Homo sapiens: one gene and its partners. The protein of the gene in region 4 purifies or fractionates together with the protein of the main gene of each other region. This does not show direct contact. Each region holds a gene or a part of one and is shown on either strand. Other genes may lie near its edges. The genes, in order: UFSP2, CWC22, ODR4 and FMR1NB.

The links.
Region 1: the proteins of FMR1NB (region 4) and UFSP2 purify together in Homo sapiens (affinity purification with mass spectrometry; one large-scale study listed by BioGRID and IntAct). This does not show direct contact.
Region 2: the proteins of FMR1NB (region 4) and CWC22 purify together in Homo sapiens (affinity purification with mass spectrometry; 3 studies listed by BioGRID and IntAct, with this or other methods). This does not show direct contact.
Region 3: the proteins of FMR1NB (region 4) and ODR4 purify together in Homo sapiens (affinity purification with mass spectrometry; one large-scale study listed by BioGRID and IntAct). This does not show direct contact.

The regions. Positions count from the first base shown.
Region 1 is NC_000004.12:185,404,067-185,408,987, reverse strand, and holds part of UFSP2 (ufm1-specific protease 2), read left to right. Parts: exon of another isoform or gene 1-552; coding exon 553-717; intron 718-927; coding exon 928-1,052; intron 1,053-3,028; exon of another isoform or gene 3,029-3,131; coding exon 3,132-3,208; intron 3,209-4,921. UniProt on the Homo sapiens protein: Thiol-dependent isopeptidase that specifically cleaves UFM1, a ubiquitin-like modifier protein, from conjugated proteins, such as CD274/PD-L1, CYB5R3, DDRGK1, MRE11, RPL26/uL24, TRIP4 and RPL26/uL24.
Region 2 is NC_000002.12:179,950,842-179,955,762, reverse strand, and holds part of CWC22 (pre-mRNA-splicing factor CWC22 homolog), read left to right. Parts: intron 1-728; coding exon 729-806; intron 807-1,405; coding exon 1,406-1,558; intron 1,559-3,164; coding exon 3,165-3,292; intron 3,293-4,836; coding exon 4,837-4,921. UniProt on the Homo sapiens protein: Required for pre-mRNA splicing as component of the spliceosome. As a component of the minor spliceosome, involved in the splicing of U12-type introns in pre-mRNAs. Promotes exon-junction complex (EJC) assembly.
Region 3 is NC_000001.11:186,395,887-186,400,807, forward strand, and holds part of ODR4 (protein odr-4 homolog), read left to right. Parts: intron 1-2,412; coding exon of another isoform or gene 2,413-2,426; coding exon 2,427-2,555; intron 2,556-3,067; coding exon 3,068-3,158; intron 3,159-4,921. UniProt on the Homo sapiens protein: May play a role in the trafficking of a subset of G-protein coupled receptors.
Region 4 is NC_000023.11:147,997,929-148,002,849, forward strand, and holds part of FMR1NB (FMR1 neighbor protein), read left to right. Parts: intron 1-4,921.

The DNA of each region.
Region 1 (4,921 bases), on a different chromosome or scaffold from region 4:
ATGATAAGTAATGTATCATTTAAAGTATATCAAGTCATGATATACTTTGAAAAATAAAAACATAAAGAGGACAGAGATGACAGGTGAGGCAGGGGGTGGGGTAGTGAGAGAATGAGTGGGCCGTTTGTAGACTGGATGGTCAAGGAAGACCTTTGACATCTAAATGGAAACCTGAGTGAAGTAAGAGTGCAAGCTGTACAATTAATTTGGGAAAAGAGAGTTCCAGGCCAAGAGAACCATGAGGCTCCAAGGTCATATTGCCCCTGGTATATGGGAACCGAAAGTAGAGGGAGCAATAGGGAAAAGTTTAGGAGATGAAATTGGAGAGGAGGCCAGAAGGTAGGTCCTGCTGGGCCCTGTGGTAAGGACTTTGAACCTCAAATAAAAAGCCAAGAAGGTATAATGTTAAACCATAGATCTGTGAAGGCATTTTTATAAGGAACTAAAGTAACAGTCTAACTCTAAGAACATTAAACATAATTCGGGAGCATATATAGAATATGTACTTCTATCCTAAGTTAATATTTTACTGTGTTTCTTCTCTGTATATAGATTTATGTGGTCCAGGGCATATATGGCTATCATCATTATATGCAGGATCGCATAGATGACAATGGCTGGGGCTGTGCTTATCGATCTCTGCAGACTATCTGCTCTTGGTTCAAACATCAGGGATACACAGAGAGGTCCATTCCAACACACAGAGAAATTCAGCAGGTACAGAACATACCGTTTTAAATTATAATCAACTGTATGTTTCATTAGCCCTTAATATACCATTGATAATTTTTGTTACCTCATGGTGCAGACTTATTTCTGTTTTGAAGAAAAAAAAATTCTTGTACTGGTAATCAGGGAAAATGCCCTAAACATCGTTTTTAATAGCTGTCTTGTGTATGGATGTTTTATATTTTTAAATACATCAAGGCTCTAGTCGATGCCGGGGACAAACCAGCAACATTTGTCGGATCGCGGCAATGGATTGGATCTATTGAGGTGCAGCTGGTACTAAACCAATTGATCGGTATAACGTCAAAAATCCTGTTTGTCAGGTAAGCACACTTTAAGAAATTAGATAAATCATTTCAAAGTGACAGTCTGTCATTTTAATTAAAATAATAGAAAAAATGGTATCTTCCCTTATTTCTTTTTATTCCTTTTCCTTCTTCCTTATTACTCATTGCTTTATAAATCTCATTTTTTAATCTTAATTTTTTTTCATTTTTTTTTGGAAGGCTCTGATTTTATGAATAAACTTTGTGATGTAATGTATACTTGTATTATTTAGGCCTAATTTTAGCCTAGAAGAGGAAAACTTAAAAATATATTAACGTTGAGTAAAGTCATAAAAATTATATTAACAGTTTCTTTATGCTCCAATCTTTTAAAAAGTCTTAAAAGGCAAAACTCAAATGTTGAACTATGACTGACCTTTTTGTTTACCTCCTGCTCTTTTTCTTTCTAAAACGTTAATAATCTAGTAATGTGTTCAAATAATGTATTCATTTTGTCTTTTCCAATGATCTTAACCATAATTCTAATATTAAAATGAGAAAATATAAATTAATTATTTTCTATGACCATAACTAGCTGACTCCTGATTGTATGAGCTTATGTTTTAAAATACATTTTCTAGCCAGGTGCAGTGGCTCACGCCTGTAATCGTAGCACTTTGGGAGGCCGAGGTGGGTGGATCCCCTGAGGTCAGGAGTTTGAGACCAGCCTGGCCAGCAGAGCAAAACCCTGTCTCTACTAAAAATACAAAAAAAATTAGCTGGGTATGGTGGCGCATGCCTGTAATCCCAGCTACTTGGGAGGCTGAGGCAGGAGAATCGCTTGAACCCAGGAGGTGGAGGTTGCAGTGAGCCAAGATCATGCCACTGCACTCCAGCACAGGCAACAAAGCGAGACTCCCTTTCAAAAAAAAAAAACAGAAAAATACATTTTCTAAAAAAAAAAAAAAAAAAAAAGAAAAGCCAAAAAACAAATAAAATACATTTTCTATTGTTAATTACAGTAACATCGTCCTCATTGTATCTTTTATGTGTTAAAGATGTAATTTTATCCTTTCCTCAGTGGTTATGGAAATCAGTGGTAAAAAAATGACAGACTGGCTGGGCACAGTGGCTCACGCCTGTAATCCCAGCACTTTGGGAGGCCAAGGTGGGTGGATCACCTGAGGTTGGCAGTTTGACACCAGCCTGGCCAACATGGTGAAACCCTGTCTCTACTAAAAATATAAAAATGAGCCGGGCATGGTGGCACACGTCTGTAATCCCAGCTACTCAGGAGGCTGAGGAAGGAGAATCGCTTGAACCTGAGAGGCGGAGGTTGCAGTGAGCTGAGATCGCGCCACTCCACTCCAGCCTGGGCAACAGAGCGAGCCTCCATCTCAAAAAATAATAATAATATAAAACAATGACAGACTTAAGTAGTGAAGAACTTTTTTTAAAAGTTACAGTTTTGGTACATTAAAACATACGTTCCTCATTAAGCAAGAGCTAAGGTTTAGCACCACCGGGCACCTTCCCCCAAAAAATACCTCCCTTCATTATCCCATCTATCTTTCTCTTTTCAAAAGTAAAAATTCTGAGATTCCCTAAAAATAGTATGTTGCACTTGAAAACATTTTGCAGTTTTCACATTGATTTCACAGACATGTATTTTAGGCCTAGACTCTCCTCTGTTATGTAGACAGGTCAGCGTTTTGGGTCCCAATTTAAAGATGAGGAAATACAGACTAAGAAGTCTACCAGCAAGAAGGCAAGAACCCAGGACTTAACACTCATTCTTCTGATTAATCCATCCATAAGAACTCCCTGAGCACCAAGGTGATGTTTTAACTTCATGTTAAAAACCCAGGCCTCCTTTATACAGTTCAAGAAGCAGAAAATCAAGGTCTTTTAGCGTCTTATCTAGCACACTTGGTGGCCTTAAGTATTTTGAGTTTATGTTGCTTTAAATTGCACAGTTTAATTGCTCTCAGTTCCCTAACACTTAATTTTTTTACATTTATATATTTTTTCAGTAACACCCGAAAAAACAAGAAAGTAGGAAACATTGTCTCCTAGCTCATTATTTGACCGTAGTGTTGGAAGTAGTTCATCTGATAGAAAATGGTTTCTTTCTAGCCAAGGTTCAGAAATTGCCTCTCAAGGACGGGAACTGGCTAATCATTTCCAAAGTGAAGGAACTCCAGTTATGATCGGTAAGCTGTTTCAGACACTGTTTTTGGTAGAGTGAGTAATATGCAAAACTTATCATTGATATAAATATTTAATGTTGCATAAAATCAGTCATTTAAAAAATTTTGAAATTAACTTTTACACCATATGTATGGATCTCTGGATATTGAAAAAAATTTCTAAGGTGGCTTAAAGGTTACAAAAAAGATTATAATAACCAGAAGAAGTAAAGGCTGAGAAATGGTAGCTATGTTCAAACATTTAAAGAGCTGAGAACAGTATTAAAAAGAGGAAACGGTCACTCAGCTGAGCTTCGTAAGTCATGACTCTGTCATAACTGGGCTGGCTTTGTGAGATTTTGCAATTACTTACCTCTGTGGATTTTATTTGTAAAATAAGAAGATTGGATTAGCTGATCTAAAGATGCTTAATTCTTTGAAGAACAAGACCTGTCCTGTGATGACAGAAGGCAAGGTGAGACTAGTGTGTAAGAAATGGAGGTAGAAGCTGGGCATAGTGGCTCACACCTGTAATCCTAGCACTTCGGGAGGCTGAGGCAGGAGGATAGCTTGCATCCAGGAATTCAAGACCAGCATGGGCCAGACCGCGTCTCTACCAAAAAAAAAAAAACACACAAATTAGCTGGCATGGTAGTGTGAGCCTATAGTGCCAGCTATTCAGGAGACTGAGGTGGGAGGATTGCTTGAGCCCAGGAGGCTGCAGTGAGCCAAGAGATCCACTGCTCTCCAGCCTGGGTTACAAAAGTGAGACACTGTCTCAAAAGAAAAAAAAAAAAAAAAGAAATGGAGGTAGGCTGATGTCAGCAAAATATCAGAAAGAACTTAATGAGTAGGCCGGGCCCAGTAGCTCACGCCTGACTCCTGATTGTATGAGCTTATGTTTTAAAATACATTTTCTAGCCAGGCACAGTGGCTCATGCCTGTAATCCAGCACTTTGGGAGGCTGAGGCGGGCGGATCACTTGAGGCCAAGAGTTCGAGACCAGCCTGGCCAACATGGCAAAACACTGTCTCTACTAAAAATACAAAATTTAGCTGGGTGTGGTGGCACACACCTGTAATCCCAACTACTTGGGATGCTGAAACAGGAGAATCGCTTGAGCTGTGAGGTGGAGGTTGCAGTGAGCCGGGATTGCCCACTGTACTCCAGCCTGGGTAGCAGAGCAAGACTCTGTCTCAAAAAAAAAGACTGGGCACAGTGGCTCACGCCTGTAATCCCAGCACTTTGGGAGGCCAAGGTGGGTCGATCACGAGGTCAGGAGATCGAGACCATCCTGGCTAACAGTGAAACCCCGTCTCTACTAAAAAAAAATACAAAAAATTCGCTGGGTGTGCTGGTGTGCGCCTGTAGTCTCAGCTACTCAGGAGGCTGAGGCAGGAGAATTGCTTGAACCTGGAAGGCAGAGGTTGCAGTGAGCCGAGGTCACGCTATCGCACTCCAGCCTGGGTGACGTGAGACTCTAGCTCAAAAAAAAAAAAAAAAAAAAAAACTTAATGAATGGAGTGCTATATCACTGGAGGTACTCAGAGGCAGCAGGACCATCTGCTGAGAGAGGCACTACAGCAGATTGTTACTCTGTTGGGAGGAGTTTATGGCCCTTTCTAAATCCATTTTAGGTAATTATATGGATGTGAATGTAGAATATAAATTGTATGTGATTATAGATATGATTGTATCTTTTGTGTTAAAGATGTAATTTTATCCTTTCAGAGTATA
Region 2 (4,921 bases), on a different chromosome or scaffold from region 4:
TGATAGTATTTCTTGACTGGGCATTTATCCATTAGTTTAACAGAATTTTCAGAGAGGTTTACATGGCGCCTGAATAGCTAATTGGAATAATATACTAGCAGTTATGGAATGATTCCATTTATTTGTATAGATCCATATAGATAGGTCTATATGAATAACATTTATTTTGAGGTGAGAAAATTCATCCACAGAGGTGTTTTTTGATGTTTCTTTATCAACGTTAACTTTATGTTAACGTTGAAGTTGTACCTACTTATGCCTCTGTAAAGACTAATAATGATCTGCCTTTTCCATGCTAAATATATTCCTTAGCAATTGAATTCATATCCTTGGGACATATGTAACTGAATTGTTAGATGTTGTGTTGGTGAGTCTATATTTAAAAGAATTCTGCATAGAATCCTTTAAGAATGCAGTGTATTAAATCTCTCCCTCATATGTCTGTTTCCTATACTAGATTTTCTTGATGTGGTTCATACTTATCATGAATTTAGAATTTTATAATTAATGTAATTAGCATAAATGACTGTGGAAGCTGTCAGCCAGACCCAAGCCTGTAAAAAATGATGAGTTTAACATAGATTGAGGTTTTTATTTTATTTACAAAATTTTTGAACTGTTTTAAACCCTTATTTAAAAATGCAGGCAGTCACTATCATACTGGTAAATTATACAATATTTAGTCTCTTTGTGTTTTGAATCATTAATGTATTTTTTTTCCCAAATAGAAAGAACTCTGCAACATGATACTTGATTGCTGTGCCCAACAGAGGACATACGAAAAATTTTTTGGCTTATTAGCTGGGGTGAGTTCCAGCCTCTACTGAGGGAATTCTTAAAACGAATATTGTAAATTAATGATTTCTGCTTTATGGTCTGGTCTCATTTAAAAACATATTACCACTTTTGCTAAAAGCAAATTATTCTCTCCTTCCTCAGGTTTCCCACTCTCTTCACCTTCCTCTTTTTCTACTTCATTTTTGCAGTGCTTTAACTTTGCATATCACTTTTCCAGAGCTTTTTGGAATTTTCCATGATTTGTAATGATTTCCCAATAGACGACAAGTAAATGCTGTCTTTTCAAAATCTCAAAGCAGTGTCTAAAGTCAAGTACATGTTCAGGCAGCACAATTAAAGCATGATCTAAAATATTTCTTTAAGCTCTACCCTCATGTGATCACCTACATGTATGATTTTGTTTTAACATGTAAATCTCAGGTAATTAGAAACCATATATATTAACTTCTTTTTTGAGCATCATATGGCACAAAAGGATTTAGTGATATATGCTCTTTGAAAATATAAAGCATATTAATAAAGTTTTGATTCAGTAAATTTAGGATTTAATATGCTCATAATTGTATTAACATTCAATTTTTAATGGTACTGATTTTTTATTTATTAGCGATTTTGCATGCTAAAGAAAGAGTACATGGAATCCTTTGAAGGTATATTCAAAGAACAGTATGATACCATCCATCGCTTGGAAACAAACAAGTTGCGAAATGTTGCTAAGATGTTTGCTCACCTTTTATACACTGATTCACTTCCATGGAGTGTAAGTACATGGGTCAATATTTATACTTCCTTCCTAATTCCCTGTTCTCAAATAGATTTTCGTATAAGCTAGCCATATTTATCCTATTATGAAATGTGCTTTAAAATGAAATGTGTAGAACTGCTGTCTTTGAGATTATCATCATGTTATAAGGAATCAGAAAGCTAGGTAAATAATATACAAGAAATACTATCTTTGTATTATATTAACAGTCCAAACATGCCAGTGTTTCGATAGTGATGGCTAGGAGTGTCTTCAGGAAAAGTACTGCAGATTTTCATCTTCTCTGTGTACACACACGTGCATGCACACTCACATCCACATATGCCACTATTTTGGTGGTAAATGTGTCTCTGAATTACTCTCCCTTGATTCCTGAGGGAATAACTCTCCATGGTTCTCTTGTTGGGTTTGAGAAAAAATGATTGTTCTAGAAGGATGTGTTCTTTTTAGCAGACATTGAAGTTGGGTAAGCTATAGAGAGGATATCCTATAGTCATAGAACAAAGAAAGATATATTCTTGATAGGGAAATGTGCACTGGATTGAAATTTGAAAGGCGTTCATTAAGCTGGCATTGATTTTACAGCTGTTTTTCAACCAGTGTTAGTTAGCCACCACTTATATACTGAGTCATTGAGAGAGGTGCTGTGTATTCAGAGTGAATTATACATGGCCCCTCCTTTCAAGAGGGTTACAGTATAAGACCAGAGGTAAGATATGCCCATAGCAATGATACAAAATAAAAAGTCTTAGATTCTAAGAAAAGCAAAATTACTAAAGGAATTTGAAAGAAAGAAAGAGAGAAGGATGAGAAATTACATCCAGGAGGAAAGAACAGGATTATCTTGTAGAATGCCATCCTACTAATGGTAGAATGAGGCAATATCTCAAACTTAAAAACATTGGTTAGATTTTTATAGTACTTTAAGTACCAAGTATGTCCAGCTACATTAATAGGCATTCGTAATCTAACCTAGGAGACTAATTGTAATAATTTTTGACTTCTTTTTTCCCCTCTTTGAGAAAATGAAGTGAGAATTTTAAACAATTAACCAACTAATGGGCCCCCCAAACACATAACCCATAAAAACTAGAGGTTACTTTTATTTTTATTTTCCCTAAAAATATTTCTTTAGGCATTTCAGTTTTTAAGCCACAGTCTTAATATTCAGAATAAACCATTATACTTTCTGTCTTTTTTTAAATCGTATGTTATGTGTGCTAAACAAAATTGTAGCCTAATGTGCTAAGTGGCATTTTGCCCCAAACCTTCATATACACCACATTTTGATGAGTAAGGTTTAGGAGCTAGTAATCTTTACCATTATATGCTCAAGAGAGGATATCTTCCCTGCTATAAAAAGCACATTACTCAAAACAGAGAATGAAATCTATTTCTGTCGCATCTTAACATTTTGAAAGTTAGTATAGAGAAGTAGTTTTAAACTTTATGTCAGCATAAGGGGAGATATTCAGAGATAACTCTGGTTGAAGATGGGAATAAATAGTAATTTTGAGAAACACTTAAACCTACAAATATTGGTCACTATGTCCTGTCTTTTATAAATTAAAATATACTTGTCTTTTTTTATTTTAATTTTCAGGTTCTTGAATGTATAAAACTGAGTGAAGAAACCACTACATCATCCAGTAGAATTTTTGTCAAAATATTTTTCCAGGAACTGTGTGAATACATGGGTCTTCCTAAACTTAATGCAAGATTAAAGGATGAGTAAGTTTGCCATTAAGCACTTTTTATTCTTATTGACCTCTGGTTTTCTCCCATTGTAGCAGACATAAGCCCATCCGAGACTGTAAAAACAAGAGCTAAGCCCCCTGAGACTTTCTTCATCCATTAATCACTGTGAATTTCATGTTATGTCACACAGGACAACATGCAACTTTTAGTGGTGGTTTTTAGTTTAAGTGGAGTTCAAATTAATGCCTTTTTAGATTTTCTTAGAAAATACAGAATTGTTTTTGTATGCTCACTTGAATTCTCCAGTGATATTTATAATTTTATTTTCTTTTTACCCTAATTTTAAGCCTTAGAATGATAACTAATATTATCAGTGGACAGTTTTGAGTATATATTTCATCTATTAATAATTGTTCAAAATATTACATAGAACTAGAGCCTTATTTCAGGATTATTATGTAATCCCCTCTCACCTTTCTTATTTCCTGTTTGTTCAGATTGCCACTTAGGTTGACTTCTACTCCATTGACACTACTGAAATCATCCTTTCAGATTTCTCAGTGACCACCTGCCATATTCAGTTGTCTTTCTCAGGCTGCATGCCTCTTCACTTCTCTGCCTCACTTATGCAGTTGACTACCTACTCACTGTGGCTCCATACTTTCTTCTCACTTCCTCTCTCAGTCTTCTCCTCAGCCTGCCTCTTCAGTGTTCCTGGGTTCCACACACTGTCTCTGGACTATTCCATCCACTTCTCTTGGCTTCATATACTTACTTATTTGGTCCCTGTCTACTTGACCAGGCTCGTCTTCTCTCTCTTCAGCAAGCTGCACTCCAGCCATACCAACACTGCCAAGCTTGTTAAACATATCTGGCTCTTTCATGCTTCCTTACCTCAGTTTCCACTGCTGGCATTCTCCTGTCTTATTGATCTATCTGGGAAACTCTTAATCATTCTTCTTATATTGTACCTTTTTCTGTGAGAAAGTTTTTTCTGACTCCACTGAGTAGTTACTCAGTGTGGTGCTGAAAACCAAATGTCCAAAACCACCTTGTATTGTTAGTGTCTTTCTGGTTGTCTCACTCCATATATATTGTAATTATATGGTCTTCATCCTTGATTTCTCCCTTTTGTTGATGACTTCCACCTCTCCCCCAGTACTTGGCACAGTTCTATGTATGTGTGTGTACGTGTACATACACAACAGAGAAGGTTTTTAAAATTTTTTGTACATATATTCACTATATATACGTGTGTGTATATATATACACTATATATATTCACACGTGTATATATGTGTATATATTTATCTTTCTATATGTGTGTGTGTAAAAAAAGTTTTTTAAAAACCTCCTACATTGTATAATGATAGAAATCAAGTTTGGTACATTATTACTTGACCCTACTCATTTCATTTAGATAGCACGTAGCCTAACCTAATAAATGACATCAACTAGTTACTTGGTTGTATTTCATTTAGTAATTTAATATATGAAAAATCTGAAAAATGACTAAGGATTTTACCTTTTTATCTTTAAGCAATGTGTTCTCTTTTGTTTATTTTTTTCCTTTTTAGAACTCTGCAGCCATTCTTTGAAGGATTATTACCCCGAGATAATCCAAGAAACACTCGGTTTGCCATCAACTTCTTTACTTCTATA
Region 3 (4,921 bases), on a different chromosome or scaffold from region 4:
GTTCTGTACTGACTAGTTAGAGAAGTCCAACTCAGGGTTCTTCATAGCCTCAGCATACCTTTTTGTTCTTATTTTCTACCTCTTATTTTCTAGATGTATGCTTGCCATACCTTTAAAGCTCTGTATTTCCTGAACTATGTATCATGTCTTTGCTCTTTTCTCTGTCACCCAAACTGTCAAAATCCTATCTGTACATTAAGATCTAGCCCAAATGCCACTACTTGTGTAAGATTTCATTTGGTTCCCATAGAAATGGGGATCTTCTCTTTTTCAAATGCCATGTCAGCATCATAGAAGTTCCCTCACCTATAGGCTGTTTGGCAGCCAGGTTATTCCTAAGTCCAAATAACCAAGAGGAGTTTACATTTGTAGACCCCAACTGGTCTACATTTCCACCTAAAAGGAATGAGTCAGACCTTACATTCTTTAAAACTTTTCCTGGCTGAGCATGGTAGCTCATGCCTGTAATCCCAGCACTTTGGGAGGCCTAGGCAGGGTGATCGCTTGAGCCTAGGAGTTCAAGATGAGTCTGAGCAACAAGTGAAACCCTGTCTCTACAAAAAAATACAAAAATTAGCTGGGGGTGATGGTGTGTGCCTGTAGTCCCAGCTACTTGGGAGGCGAAGGTGGGAGGATCGATTGAGCCTAGGAGCTTGAGGCTGCAGTGAGCTCTGATAGCATCACTGTACTCTAGGCTGGATGACAGAACAAGACCCTGCCTCAAACAAAACAAAATAAAACTAACCAACCAACCAAAAAAATACCTCTTTTCTTTAATATGTGTGTGTATAGTCTTTAATAGTCTAGTCTGTTTTGGATAACAATGCCATAATTATAGATAGATAGATAGATAGATAGATAGATAGATAGATATATGTATATACACACATACACATATATTTACATATACTAATATATAAATGTGTTATATGTTAAAAATATATAAATTATATGTTAAATATGTAAAATAGGACATTCTTTTTAGAGTAGTTTTGTCTACAATAAAAAGTTATGGAGTAGATAGGGGAAGCCTGTTACTCCTCCTCCAACCCCACCTTATTGATGTATCAATGAACTCTACATGTGTCATATGGAAGCTTATTCCAGACATTGTATCAGCATCGTCACACTGCTGCTTGGTTTGATGATAGCCATTTTTGAATGGACCCAGGACCTTTGGAGCTGTGTGGTCTGTGGCAAATTTTTTGTCAACAAGTCCTTGACCATCTTAAAGTTTAAATTGTTTAACAACACCTAGAAGATTTACATTGCCTTAGACATTGCTTGAATTACACTAGACATCAATAATGCTCTTTCAATAGCTATGCATGTCAGTATTCTCCTCTTCATTATTTTTCCGCATTTATTCCTGATTGCATAAGCACATAGGCACAAAGCACTTTTCACAAGTTGTATGATTTGACTTTTGTTCTTCAGAATTGATTTGGTTGTTGAATGACTTATACTCCAAGTGTTCTTAGAACATAAATTACTTCCTTACCATTTCCATTTTTTGGTTATTTTTTGTAAATCATTATTTTTTGTTTCCACTGTTATTATAGGCCTCTATTACAGGTTGAGTGTGCCTTATTTGAAATGCTTAGGACCAGAAGTGTTTTGGGTTTGGGATTTTTTTTAGATTTTGTAATATTTGCAGAATACATACCAGTTGAGCATCTCTAAGCCAAAAATCTAAAATCTTATATGCTCCAATTACCTTTTCCTTTGAACATCACATTGGTGCTCAATAAGTTTTGGATTTTGGAGCATTCAGGATTTTTAGATTAGGGATGCTCAACCTGTAGTACTTTAACTATTTTGATACTGTCCTTGTTTTTGGCACTTATTAAGATGATGGGGTTGAAAATATATGTGAAACACCTGAAAACCGAACAAGAGCACTGGCATTCCTTAGACTAAAGAGGATGGGACTAGTCTATGAAAGTTTTTGGTTGAAAGTGTGTAAATATATGTGTCTGTGCATTGCTTGTAGTTTTACCATAGTTATCACATCCCACTTTGTATTTGTTATTGTGAACTTATTTTGCATTGCACAACTTATATCTAGTACATCATATCTTCTTTGTATATCTTTTAATCATCACAGTACTGATGTGAATAATTTGCAAATAATATATTTTTAGGAGCATATCGAGTGAATATTGAACCATTTTAGATGGTTATGTTAGAAAAATTTAGATGTAGTTGTGTTTAATTTCATTATATCTTCAAAATGACTGGAAAATAATATATAACTTATAAAAACAAATATGAAGGCCTTTAAATAATTTGCAGAGAATAATTTCAAATGCTTGGCTCAGTCAAAACTTTGTTCTCTCTTCATAAAATCGCTAATATAATGTTTAAATATTTCCTGTAGTTAATCATTGTTGGTTATTAGAACTTAAACAGATTTTGTCTTTCAGCTCCTGAATTCAGACCACAGATCCACAGCCACAGTCCAGATATGTAGCGGTTCTGTAAACCTTAAGGGTGCTGTGAAATGCAGAGCTTATATCCACAGCAGTAAACCCAAAGTTAAAGATGCTGTGCAGGTACAAAAAGGAATAACGAGCATATGGAACCATGTTAACTATTAACAAAAACCTAAAATTTTACCATTTTTTAATCTTATATTTTGTAATTATTAATTCGATTTTAACTGATAATGGCCTATTGTGCAGTCCAAATGTACCATATAATTGGTGTGAAGATTTTCATATGTAGAGTATCTATTTTGTGCCTTTTTAAAAATGATGGCTATACAAGTTTAGTAAGTGTTCCACTGTTATACATATTAGTATCTAATTTGGAACACTGCAATTATTTTTTTAGATGTGAAATTTTATTCATTTATCTGTTTTTAACTATTTAGATAAATTTATCATTAAACTATAAATTTGTTAATAAGTGTGCTAAATAAGTGGAAATAAAACATTGAATGATGTATCAGTTATTTAGTGGGCATGATTGTACTGGAAAGCAAATTATTTTTTTTGTTAGTTAAATATTGTAAATCTAAAGTATTTTATTTCTTACTGTGTTTTTTGTGTGTTTTTCCCTGTAGGCAGTAAAGAGGGATATATTGAACACAGTTGCTGATCGTTGTGAAATGCTATTTGAGGATCTGCTTTTGAATGAAATTCCAGAAAAAAAAGTTATGAGTATAAAATAAGTACTTTTTTGCGTATCTTCAACTGATATAGTAATAAGATATCAAGATATAGCAGATACGTCATCTTTTATAGCTACCTATCTATATTTTCAAGCAGTATATCATCTTTTATTATTGGATGAAAATTTTTCAGTTGCTACTCAGATTTTTTTTTTTTTTTTTAGACAGAGTCTCACTGTGTTGCCCAGGCTGGGGTGCAGTGGCACAGTCATGGCTCACCTGCAGCCTCAGCCTCTTGGGCTCAAGCAGTCCTCCTACCTCAGCCTCCCTAGTAGGTGGGCCTGCAGGCACATGCCATGATGCCTTGCTAATTTTTGGTATTGTTTTTTTAGAGACAGGGTTTTGCCATGTTGCCCAGGCTAGTTTCAAACTCCTGAACTCAAGTGATCCACTGTCTTTGGCTTCCCGAAGTGCTGGGATTACAGGTGTGAGCCACCATGCTTGGCTCTAGAAAAACGTTTTAGAACACTATCAAATTTAGCAAATTTGTCAACAATTAAGAATTTCAGGGAGGATTTTTAAAAAAATTAATTCCAAGTGAACTTCTCCTGCCAGAATGAGTAAACTTTGTTAACATTTTAAAGTTAGTATTTTTTGTTGATATCTATGAGTATTTTAAATAATTTAGCCATAATCAAAATATTATTAGTGTTAAATACTATATAATAGCTCCTTTAGTAGGTACTATTTATATAAACTACACTAGTTTATATGCTTCTCAGCTATTACTCTAACAGACTTCATTACGTTTAAAAAAGGCTGAGTTACAGTATCTTACCCATTAATAACGATTGCAGCTTTTGGGAAACATAACAATTTATACCATCGCAGTAATCTGTATTAAAAAATTTTTTTAATCAAAAGCAAGTTAAAATATTGAGTACACTTTTTAAAGCTACATCATCATCTCCCCATTCTTTTTTTTTTTCTTTTTTTTTTTTTTTTTTTGAGACGGAGTTTCGCTCTGTCGCCCAGGCTGGAGTGCAGTGGCGCGATCTCGACTCACTGCAAGCTCCGCCTCCCGGGTTCACGCCATTCTCCTGCCTCAGCCTCCTGTGTAGCTGGGACTACAGGCACGCGCCACCATGCCCGGCTAATTTTTGTATTTTTAGTAGAGACGGGGTTTCACCGTGTTAGCCAGGATGGTCTCGATCTCCTGACCTCGTGATCCGCCCGTCTCGGCCTCCCAAAGTGCTGGGATTACAGGCATGAGCCACCGCGCCCGGCCTCCCCATTCTTATTATTCTGATGTTAGTGGATTTGCAATTCACATTTAGATATGTACATAATTGAAACATTCATATTAGCTTCGGGTTCCAGCAATTCTCCTGCCTCAGCCTCCCGAGTAGCTGAGATTACAGGTGCCCACCACCACGCCTGGCTAATTTTTGTATTTTTAGTAGAGACAGGGTTTCACCATGTTGGCCAGGCTGGGCTCGAACTCCTGACCTCAGATGATCCACCCACCTCGGCCTCCCAAAGTGCTGGGATTATAGGCATGAGCCACCATGCCCAGCCCACATTAGCTTTTGAAGGGAATATTTTTATGTTCATAGGAAAAAAAGCATAGCTCCTCTATATAACCAACTTCTTTTAGTACTACTGATAGCTAGTATGTTAAGTTTGATGGACTAATTATAATCTTTTTTTTATATTCCTAGTATGCTGGATTCTATGATTGGCAGATTTAACATTTATCCTTCTCGTAATTCACAACCCTAAAGTTCCATTTACTAATAATTTATA
Region 4 (4,921 bases):
GCAATCATTAAAATGTGTGGAAACAACAGATGATGGAGAGGATGTGGAGAAACAGGAACGCTTTTACACTGTTGATGGGAGTATAAATTAGTTCAACCATTGTGGAAGACAGTGTGGCAATTCCTCAAGTATCTAGAACCAGAAATACCATTTGACCTAGCAATCCCATTACTGGGTATATACCCAAAGGATTATAAATCATTCTAGTATAAAGACACATGCACACGTATGTTTATTGCAGCACTATTTACAATAGCAAAGACTTGGAACCAACCCAAATGCCCATCAATGATAGACTGGATAAAGAAAATATGGCACATATACATCATGGAATACTATGCAGCCATAAAAAAGAATGAGTTCATGTCCTTTGCAGGGACATGGATGAGGCTTGAAACCATCATTCTCAGCAAACTAACACAGGGACAGAAAACTAAACACCGCATGTTCTCACACATAAGTGGGAGTTGAACAATGAGAACATATGGACACAGGGAGAGGAACATCACACACCAGGGCCTGTCAGGGGGTGGGGGGCTAGAGGAGGGAGAGCATTAGGAGAAATACCTAATGTAGATGACGGGTTGATGGGTGCAGCAAACCACCATGGCCCATGTATACCTATGTAACAAACCTGCACATTCTGCACATGTATCCCAGAACTCAAAGTATCAAAAAAGACAAAGTTTATAAAGATTTGCCCTATGGCAAGTGATGTCAGCCGTGTTTGGTGTCATGGTAGGTTTGATATGTTACTCATTTTTTTCTTTTACACTTTCAAATAAACTCATAGCAAACATTAATATATCCATAAATATTCATCTATGTTCCACCTAAAATTCTTATGTACTACTAGTGATAGACTACACTTTGAGACATACTGCTCAAATTAATTTAAAAATAATTTTCTTTCAGAGTACGGAAGAAACCAAAGGTGGAGGGCAGGGTAAAATATATTCTAGACTTATGGTTGAGACTGCCACTGATGTTGCTCATCTTAGTTAAGATGTTTAATTGTCGCTTTCATTTCAATGCCCATTGTAATGACCGAAAGATCTATAAAGGGTGAAAACCTGGAGAACCTAGAAAGTTTCCATCTGGCATCTATATGCCAGAAACTTGGAGGGTTCTCTGAAAGATAAAAACATGATGGAGAGAAATCACAGCAACTTGTGTTTCATGTCAAGCCAAGGGCAAGCCTGTCCAGCAGGGTCTGGAGGCTAGGGCACTCTGAGTTGGGGACTCTAAGTTGGGGGATCAATATTCTAGAGGAATTCCAGAGAGCACATAACTTGCTGAATATAACTTAGGATGGAGACTTGGGCCTCAGTGTGCTACTGTCAGCCAACACTTACTTCAGATGGTGTGCTGAATCGAGTGGCAACAAGGACAGCAAATTGACGAAGGGGAACACTGAGCAAACAAACAGCAATATGGAACTAAAGTCTTGTCAAGGTCCCTTCCATCTGTAGCTCCCTTCTCATGTCATGTAGGACAGAGGGTTCTCTGATCTGGCAAAATGTGCCTAGCAACATTAATCTCATTTCTTGTCCTTGTGCTGGAAGCACTCTCCCAGGCCCTTTGTTCAGCCAGCTACTTCTAGTCTTTTTTTTTTTTCCACTTAAATATCATCTCCTCAGAGAGACTGGCTCCCATTTAAAGTAGCCCCCCTCCTTTATTCTGTATCAGTATCCACTTTTCTTCATAGCACTCATTACAATTTGTAATTACTTAATTTGTTAGTGGTCTGTCTTCTCCACTGCATTGTAGTAAGCTCCATGAGGGCAGGGATCTTGTCTGACTTGTTCACTGATATATCCTCAAAACACAGAATATAGTGGGTGTTCAATAATGAGTAAGCATTAGTAGAAAACAAGCAGGACAAAATGGATTATGTTTAATATTGTCAAGGTGTAATATATAGTGAAGATAAAATTGTCATGATTGAATATGCACTATTGGAATATATGAAACAAATAGTTTTAGAAATTTAAGTAGAAATCGTCAAAACCACAATCATGGTGAGATACTTTAATATTTATCTTTTAGTCCTTGACAGAAAAATAAAGATACAGAGCATTTGCATAATATAATTTAGCTTGATTTAACATTTATAATAGAGTTCATTGTGAGAGTACACATTCAAATGTATGTGTATGGAAGTTGCTCTCATTAAAATGAGAAAGAAGATATTATCATTGATATAAAGGAGATTTAAATATTACAAGTGAATAGTCTTATGATTCCATGCTAATAATTGCTTTGTAAATAGATGATTTCCTAGCAAAATAAAAATAACAAAATTAACTGTGACCATGAAGAAGCAAAAGATAAAGAACTACCCCTCTCCAAAAAATGAAGACTCAGACTTTTTCTGGATGAGTTTTCCCAAACCTTTAATGGATCAAATCATTCCTATATTGTTTCATCTGTTTTAGTCTAGAAAAGCAACAGGAAGCTTCCTAGGTTATTTTATGAATGAAACAGGTATAACTCTTATGCCAAAATTTACAGATGTAGCACACAAAAGAAAACTGCAGACACACTTCACTTAGGAATGTTGAATCATGAATCCTATATAAAACATTAGCACTTGTGGACTTTGTTCAAGAATGCAAGAATATTTTAATATTGGCAAATATATTAATAACATTCAATAATTAATAGGCAGGGGGAAATATCATCATGGCAGTAAATATTAAAAGGATTTGATAGAATCCCAGTTCTATCCCTGATTCAAAATGAAACAAAATAACAACAGAAAATTTGTAGAAAACTAAAACTAGAGAAATACATCCTTAATTTAATAAAGGGTATCTATCTTACACCAGCAGCCAACATTATACTTCATTATGAAATATTAGCACATTCCCATTAAAGTCAGGAATGACTCAAGAACGCCCATTATTATGGTTATTAATCAACATAGTTTAAACATTTCTAGGCAATACAGTGAAAGAAGAAAAATAATTCAGGTGTTAATATTGTAAAGAAAGGAGACAAAGTCATCTATATTTAGTGATAATATTATTGTCTATCTGGAATGAAACTGAAGAACAATGAGAACTAACGAGAGTTAACTAAGGGAGGAAGAAAATATATGTATAAAAATCAATAGCTCTCTTACATACCATCAATCCACTAGAAAATGTGGTGAAATGGATTATGTTCACAAAACAACAAAATATATATGATGCCTGGGAATAAATGTACTAAGAAAAGTGCAGGGCCTATCTGAATACAATGATAAACCTTATTCAGGGACATAAAAAGAGACTTGAATGAACAGAGAAACAAAACTACTTAGGTGAAAAAATTTTGTAACATTATCAATTCTCTCCAAATGAGTCTACATTTAATTGAATTCATGCCTAGCACGTGGGACACACAATAAATGATTTTTGAATGAATGATAAATAAGTGAACATAATTACCATAAAATTTAGAATTTTTTTTGACTTGACAAAACGATTTTAAGGTTCATCTAAAAAATTCTCAGAGCTGAAAATAAAATTTGATAGTAGAGACAATGAAAGGATTACCAGATCAGTTATTAAAACATAATGACATAAGATAGGCCGGGTGCAGTGGCTTACGGAGGCCTAGACAGGTGGATCACGATACCAGCCTGGGAAACATGGTGAAACCCCGTCTCTACTAAAAATACAAAAATTAGTTGAGCGTGATGGTGCATGCCTGTAATCTCAGCTACTCGGGAGGCCAAGGCACAAGAATCACTTGAACCAGGAAGGCGGAGGTTGCAGTGAGCTGAGATTGCGCCATTGCACTCCAGCCTGGGCAACAGAGCGATACTCTGTCTCAAAAAAAAAATAAAAGAAAAGATAAAATAAACAATAACATTAGTATTGGCACATGAATAGATAGGTTGGTGGAACAGAATAGAAAGTCAAGAAGCAGATCTATGACTATAAGGATATAGTAAGGATTTAGAATGTGATGATGTTATCTTAAGTATAACAGAAAAGGATGGATTTAATAAAGGGCCTTATGACTGCTGGAAAAATCGTATCCCTACTCCACAACACACTCCAAAATATACTCCAGGTGTATTAAATATTTAAATTTAAAAAGTACAACCATGAAAATGTTGGGAGTATTAGAGTATAGAATGCCTTTATAGAGGTAAAAATAATAAAGGAAGAGATTGATAGATTTAATTACATATAACATTTTAAGCTTCTGAGCTTCCCAAACACCATAAAAAAGTAAGGATAACCAATTACCTTGAAAAAAATATTTTAAATATGTGGCAGATTAAGAGTTAAGTTCTCTACTATGCAACACAATATGAAATATGTAAGCTCACTGATTATGAAAGTTGCAAATTAAAACAAAAGATATTTTGTTTTATTTTGGCCATCAAATTGGCAAATAATAAAAAATGGAGAGGTGTCAGAAAACTGGCACTTGCCTGTACTACTGGTAGAAGTGTATTTTAGGGTTGCCCTGCTGGAGGGTAATTTGGACATACTCAAGAGCCACCATGCCTTAAGAATTTATCTTAAGTAATTTTTCATGAATATTTGCAAATATATAAATATAAAGCTTCAGTGATAATCATTGCAAGCTAACGATAATGTAATGATAATCATTGCAGTGTTCTTTATAACATCAATAAATTGTAAACAGCCTAAATGTTTTCCTATGGAGAAATTGCTAACTGAGTTATAATAGAGCCATATAATGGAATTCTGTGACATTATTAAAGATAGTTTTGGGAAATATTTAATGCTATGGACAAATCTGTGTTATCCTCTTCTCTCATGTAGGAGGGAATTGTGTAAATAAGACTAAAAACCAGTTCTTTAAAATAGTGAGAAAGAAGGATAAGGAAGGTTTTACTGTATGTAAGGCCTTGATTTTTGTCAATATATATGTAAGCCAACATATTTTCCAAGAC